Linked DNA regions of Homo sapiens. The protein of the gene in region 2 interacts with the protein of the main gene of each other region in a biochemical or structural test. Each region holds a gene or a part of one and is shown on either strand. Other genes may lie near its edges.

Evidence for each region.
Region 1: the proteins of LDB3 (region 2) and ARHGEF26 interact in a test that uses a peptide from one of them, tested with the Homo sapiens proteins (one large-scale study listed by IntAct).

The regions. Positions count from the first base shown.
Region 1 is NC_000003.12:154,253,890-154,257,389, reverse strand, and holds part of ARHGEF26 (rho guanine nucleotide exchange factor 26), read right to left. Parts: exon of another isoform or gene 3,417-3,500; intron 2,671-3,416; coding exon 2,566-2,670; intron 2,060-2,565; coding exon 1,917-2,059; 3' UTR 1-1,916. UniProt on the Homo sapiens protein: Activates RhoG GTPase by promoting the exchange of GDP by GTP. Required for the formation of membrane ruffles during macropinocytosis. Required for the formation of cup-like structures during trans-endothelial migration of leukocytes.
Region 2 is NC_000010.11:86,713,377-86,717,226, reverse strand, and holds part of LDB3 (LIM domain-binding protein 3), read right to left. Parts: intron 901-3,850; coding exon 456-900; intron 1-455. UniProt on the Homo sapiens protein: May function as an adapter in striated muscle to couple protein kinase C-mediated signaling via its LIM domains to the cytoskeleton.

The DNA of each region.
Region 1 (3,500 bases), on a different chromosome or scaffold from region 2:
TTGATAGCCTCTCTTTTAAAAAGTCTGTGACATTATTAAAGAGGTGACGGAATGCTTGTTTTGCAAACCCCAACACATCTTTCACTGTGGACCATTGCTATTACTTCATTAACACAGTTGCTCAGATCTCAAGGTACTCACGGTCTGAAATATATTTTACAATTAGAAGGTATGCACAGGTCAAAAAGAGCAATCCAAGGGTTAGAAGTCCCCAGTGCCCCACACTGGCTCATTGCCGAGGTGACAGGGTGCAGGCTGTGTGAGCCAGGCACACTTACCCCTCAACTGGGCTTCTGTAGCTTTACAATTTGGATAACTAGTTAGCGGACAGTAGTTGGGACATGTCACATACAGATTTGAGTCCTCCAATAATGTACACTTTGCCAGGTTTTATCCCTTTGTTAAAGCAAATAGAACAGAGAGGGAATATAGCTGCCAGTAAAAATCATTTCCCCCCTCTTAATCTCCCATCCTTCATCTCCATGAAACCGACTATTAAGATAACCTTTCTCTCTCTGTGCACTAGTGGAAAAAGTAAAGTTCTATAGAAACTCACAGTTAAGAGGGACTCTGAATACAGCAAGTTAAGGCTTTTAGTGCAAATAGAATGAATTCCCACTAAGGTCAAAAGGTTTCAATTGGGTACCATGCTGACTTCTTGGTATCTTTTAAGGCCTAATTTTCCCTTCCTTGAGATTACTGTAGTGTGTTCCAGCTAATTTCTATTTGGAAACGAGTTGGAACAGCTGAAAACTAGGTATTATTGAAGGCAAAGCAGCCTCACGTCAGTTTTTTATCAGCTCATTTGGGAAGGTTTTTTTTTTTTTTTTTTTTTTTTTTTAATTAATTAGAAAGTAGGCTGGGCACGGTGGCTCATGCCTATAATCCCAGCACTTGGGGAGGCCGAGGATCTCCTCTCTGGTGGATCACTTGAGGGCAGGAGTTAAGAGACCATCCTGGCCAACATGATGAAACCCTGTCTCTACTAAAAATACAAAAAGTAGCTGGGCGTGGTGGCATACTCTTACAATCCCAGCTACTTGGGAGGCTGAGGCAGGAGAATCACTTGAACCTAGGAAGCAGAGGTTGCAGTGGGCCAAGATCACACCACTATACTCTAGCCTGGGCGACAGAGGTGGGGAAAAAAGTAGGACCCCTGTCCTATATTCAGGTTTTTCTCACATATATGAACCCATCTAAATTCTACGTTGTTAAAGGTAGCTTAGGTTAATTAGTCTATACTTATTTAAGAACAATATGGGGTGAGATGGATTTTTTTTTAAAAATCCTAAAGTAAGGCTTTCTACTTTCCTTCTAATGAGGAAAAAGGTGACAAAAATTCAAGTGTCAATGTCCCCTTCCTGGGAAGAGGTTTAGAAAAACAACAGCTCACCTTCTGAACTCTACCAGTTCCTTTTGAAGTTAACGAAGCATTAAAATCAGATGTAAAAAAAGAAAAAAAAAGGCAGGGAAATATTTACAAAACTGGACATTCTTTACAGATATACAATCTTGCTAATACTGGGAGAACCATACAAGGATGTATAAAGAGAGACAGTCACCTTAGTAATGCAAGGATAGAGAAAACCAGGATATAATATGTGTTTTTTATTGCCAGAACATGGTGAAACTAGGAGGAGCAGAGATGACCTGATCCCTGAAGTGAACTGCTCAGCTATTCTGTGTACCTCAGGAGGTCTGCAAGTGTGTGGTTAGGTAAAAACTGAGCTGTGCAAACTCACTGTATCCAAGCTCTTCTCATGAGAGAGCAGAACAACCTGGCAAGCTTAAAGGCAAGTGTTTTCGTTCTTTTAATTAAATAGGCTGTGACAAAATTAACAATAAAACTAGCCCAGAACCAACCAGCCCGGTAAGTGTCGTGCAAATCTTGCAGTAACAAAAGACCATCTGAGAGACTACACGTTGGTCTCCAGTCCTAGCAAGCGTCCCATTCTCTCCACATTCTTATCAATTGTAGCTTGACATGTTATCTCCTTGGCACATTCCATAGGAAACCAGCCTCTTTCTCCATCTCGTAGTCGTTCCCCCTCATACCAGCCTGTGAAAAAGAACAGAGTCCACACCAAACAACAAGTATTTGGAGTGTGCCAGGCTCCAAGGATATGAAAAAGCTGAGAGGCAGCATCCCTCCCCAGGCTAAGTGCTACGGTGAGAAGAGAAAGTGGGACAGGGAAAGCTTTCGAGGGGGAATGAATGACATGGCAGGGAAAGAACGTGAGCAGAGGCCCTGAAGTGAGAAGGCTGAGAGTATTTGAACCTGGGCTGAGCTGGGAAAGGAGATGCTTTGGGTAAAGGATAGCAGGAAGAATGCTATTTTTGAAAGGACGAATATTTAGAGATAAGAACTGGGTCACTGAGGGACTGGGGAAAAAAGAAAACGTCATGGTTTAGCCTTAGAGATGAGAAGACAGTACATATATGTGATCTCAAACATTAACATGTCAAGATTTGGAATATGGGCAATGATGACAAAATGACACTCCTCGGGTCTATAGCACTCTGCATCCTGGACCACGAGTGTCCCATAAGAACGCTCCCACTCACCATCGCTGACACGTTGATAGATGAGGACGACGTCAGCCACCTGCAGGGAGAGTTCATCTGGCTGCTTAGCAGTAAATGACCTAACGATTTCCACCTGGGTCAGTGCTGAGGCCAAAAGAGGACATACTAAGTTTCCAGTAGCAGAGAAAAAACATGTGCAATCCAATAATGTACACTTACTTATTTTTCTCTGCAATTCAGGGCCAGCATTGAGAGAAACAAGTTGGGCTTCTAATAAAAAGCAGAACATCTTTTCTAGCAACTCCCTTGCTTGGCTATAAGCTTTAGAATTTTAGAAGCTCAGATTTGAGAGGCCTTTTATGATGCATGATTCCCCTCAATAACAGGTTGATCAGGAGTCATTAGTCATGTCACACAATGGAACAGAAAACAGCCACTCTGCATTAGGGAAACTGAGACATGAAAGAGTTGCTGATGTGCCAAGGCCATGCAAAATCTGCAACAGACACAGTTCTCCTGGCTCTCATCAGAGTGTCTCCCCATCCCAACAGCAGCACATGAAAGTTTCCAAAAAAAAGTTTAGAAATAAAATGAGCTCCAACCAAAAGCTGAGAAGTCATGTTAGACCTCCTCAGAAATGCTGACATGTGGCCGGGCACGGTGGCTCACGCCTGTAATCCCAGCACTTTGGGAGGCCGAGGCAGGCGGATCACGAGGTCAGGAGATTGGGACCATCCTGGCTAACACGGTGAAACCCCGTCTCTACTAAAAATACAAAAAATTAGCTGGGCATGGTGGCGGGCGCCTGTAGTCTCAGCTACTTGGGAGGCTGAGGCAGGAGAATGGTATGAACCCAGGAGACGGAGCTTGCAGTGAGCTGAGATAGCACCAGAGCGAGACTCCATCTCAAAACAAACAAACAAAATGCTGACATGTGACTTCTTAATTTGCTTTTTAATACAAAGCTTGATTTC
Region 2 (3,850 bases):
AATCACTTGTTTTCATTTTAGTCTGGCAGATGCCCACCAACCCCCTGAGCAGCCCAGGCCTGTCTGTGGAAAGACCCAGAAACAACCCTAAAGGAAAACTGGGTCAAAACCAACACTGTCTAACAAAATGCCCTGTAAACCTACTGACAAGCCTGGTGATTCCCAGACCTCAACCTTAGCCCAAGGGGGAGTTCCTGGCACCAGGCATCCTGCTGGAGCTTCACCCACATACCTCATGCCATTCCTCCCAGCTCCCTGGGAGAGTGGGTGTCACACAGGTATGGCAGCTAAGGCTCAGAGAGGTAAGACCAGATGGCAAGCCAGAAGGACCCGAGGCTTTCTCCCTACACCTGCCTCCTACCCCCATCTCTCCCAACCAGGGCTCAGACTGTGGGCAAGCACCCCACACACACGCCCTTCCAGTGCCCCAGTGCAGGGGCACAGCTGGACCATACCGGATGACATTGTTGCAGTGACCGCAGAGTGGAGTCCGGCTGCTGGCTGGGAATCGCTCAGCCCTCTGGACGGTCCCCCTGGCAAGTGGTGGCACCTGAGGACCCGCTGGGGTGTAGGCTGGGCCTCCCCGGGGCAGGGTCTGCTTGCTGATGGAGGTGGTGCTCTTGCCCGGGGCAAACTTCTGGGAGAAGCTATCATCTGTCACCCAGGGTGGACGGCTGGCAGGCTCCGCAGGGCCCCCGCTGTAGGCCACCGAGGGTGCAGGGTTATAGTTGGGGGCAGGTGAGGGGGTATAGGCTGGTGCTGGGGATGGAGTGTAGGTGGGGACAGGTGAGGGGGTGTAGGCAGGGGCAGGGGAGGGGGTGTAGGCAGGGGCAGGGGAGGGGGTGTAGGGAGTGGGACTGTAATTGGCCCCTGGGGACGGGCTGTAGGTAGATGCAGGCACTGCAAAAGCCAAAAAAAACCCAAAGAAAGGTGTGTCAGGAATTCATTCTTCCCAGTTCCCCTCACTCCTAGCCAGAGAAATGCAAAAGGTGACTTTAACATTAGAGCAGTACAATTTCAGTTTTTTTGGGAGACTTGTTCCTGAACTTCTTGATGGCCCAGATTTGAATTCTCAGCAGGGTGTTCACAGAGCTAGGGAGCAAGCACAGCAGAACCCTCGACAGGGCTGGAAAAGGGACATGGCTATAAATATTTGCAGCTGTGCAGGGTGGGGCTCCGCCAGGCCTTGACTGCCCAAGGCCTGCATAAGACGCAGAGTGGGGGTGGGGGTACCTGGGCGGGGAGAGGTGGGAGTGGGTCACCTCGCCTTTGACTGCAAGATGCTTTCAGTTGCACTCTGACCAGTGATTTGACATCTGAAATACCTCCCTTGGCATAAGTTTGCTGAACCTGGACCTAGGTCAGCCCTCAGGACAAAACAGGTGACCTGGTAGCTGGGTTTTCAGGTTCAGGTTTCAGGTTTAGCTACAATTACTTTCTTGAAAAACAGCTTGGCTTGATTTGTATTGGGGGGCAATTCCGTCTTGGTTTGATTAGGGTGGGGGATCTTGAAGGAGTCATTCAGAGGGTGCTGGGCAGAGACTCTAGGGTGACACAGCCTAGAAGTAGCTGCTCACTTGGCCCGTGGCTGCCTTGGGGGACCCCTGTACTCCCACATCGCTTTGGTGGAAGCTGAGAGTGTGTCTGAGTGACTGTCTAAAGATTGCCCAGGCAGTCAGAGCACAGGGAAGAGAATGCACCACCTCACTTCTATCACCCCCTCCTCCAGCTCCCTGAGAGCAGAAAAACGTTTTGGGCTCACAGCACAGAAAAAGCATTGCCACTGCTTACCCACAGCCCTCTCCCGCCTGGGCCCTCAACACCTAGCCAGGGCAGACCCAGCTGCACCCTGCAGGCAAGGTCCAGCTGGCTTCCTCTTCCAGTGAGTGAGGTTCCAGAAGCCTCACCACATTTCAGTCTGCTCCTCAGCAAAGAGGCCTCATTCCCCCAACCCTAGGAAGCATGTCAGCACAGCCTCCCTCCCCATTCCTGAGCTCAGTATGGGCAGGATGGACTGCATTGAGGCAGTCCCTGCACCCACACCCCGCCTCTGCCCCCCACCCCATACTCCAGCCTCAACCTGGAGAGGAAGGTTTTCCTTAGGGCCTAAGACCCTGGCCCCATCTCCAGTCTCTCTTTCCCACCTGGTTCCCCTGGACCGCCTGGGGCAGCCTGTGGCTCCCACTCTGCACCTTCCACTCCCAGGTGACCCACCCTTCAGAGCTGGGTGAGCTGGAAATCCCTGTGCTGGGGGTGAGTAGGGACCAGGTAGATAGGATCCATCCATGTTGTTGAAGGAAGAAGAGATAAAACCCTCCACAGCCCTGCCCTGGAGCCATCCTGCCAGTGAGGCCTTCAAAAGATAATACCGGTTGGGCATGGTGGCTCACGCCTGTAATCCCAGCACTTTGGGAGGCTGAGGTGGGCAGATCATGAGGTCAGGAGATCGAGACCATCCTGGCTAATGTGGTGAAACCCCATCTCTACTAAAAAAATACAAAAAATTAGCTGGGTGTGGTGGCGGGTGCCTGTAGTCCCAGCTACTCAGGAGGCTGAGGCAGGAGAATGGCGTGAACCCAGGAGGCGGAGCTTGCAGTGACCCGAGATCGTACCACTGCACTCCAGCCTGGGCAACAGAGCAAGACTCCATCTCAAAAAAAAAAAAAAAAAAAAGATAATACCTTCTCCATAAGGAATCTTCCTCCCCTTTAGGGGTAACGAGGCACATAGCATCTGTCATCTGAATCGGTCTTCACATTATTCCCTCTTTACACTTGAGGTCACTGAGGCTCAGACAGAGCTAGTAAGTGGGAATACATCTCCAAATCCATTCATTCTATCATCCCAAGCTGCCTCTGTAAAGAATATGAGTCCAATTTCTAGAAAATCTCAGTGCAACATGTCAGGGAGGAGTCATTTTCAACATGAAGGAGACCCCCTGCTGTGGAGTCTTGATAGCATAGCCAAGAGCCCTGGCTGCAGGATCCAGCTCTACTACCTCCTGGTTTTGTGTCCTTGGGCAAGTTCCTTAACCTCTCTGGGCCTCAATTTCTTCATCTAAAACTGGCAATACTGATTCTTAGTATCTCACAAGGTTATTATGAGGATTAAGGGAAGGTAAGAAATATAAAGAGCGTAGCCTAGTACCTGGCATAGTGTGTCACTAAATGTGAGTGAGGATGGCAAGGATGGGGGCAACCTGGGTGTCAGGGTCAGATGTACTGTCAGCCTGTCTCATGGCCTGCTGCTCACCTAGGGAAGCCCAGCCCAGTTAGACTGGTAGCGCCTAGGGTTGGGGGAGAGGAGGGAAGGGAAATGGAACATCCTGAAGTCAGATAACCTGAGACTGAGGTCTATTCAGTGGTGGTGGAATGCCTGACACCCTGCCTGCCCCACAGGGCATGCTGGGGACCTGCTGGGGTGACATAGTGAATGGATTTTGTAAATGTGTACAGCCCAAATTTGAGGTATTGTCACCCTCCCTAACAACTTTGCAGAGAATATCAAAATGCTGGGGGAAGAAGTGATTCCAGGAACACCACCAGGGACAGAGAGCAGGGAGAGGTGATCTAGCACAACTTCAGAGCAGCTTCATCCCTCTGTTATATATAAGGGGGTTCTGTGCAACATTTTCTTTCCTTTCTTTGTGAAGTGCAATTCTCTGCTAAAAAAGATTAAGATTGGCTGGGCGCGGTGGCTCACGCCTGTAATCCCAGCACTTTGGAAGACTGAGGCCGGTGGATCACTTGAGGTTAGGAGTTCGAGATCAGCCTGGCCAACATGGTGAAACCCCGTCTCTACTAAAACTTCTAGTAGCCGGGCATGGTGGTGGGCGCCTTGTAAACCCAGC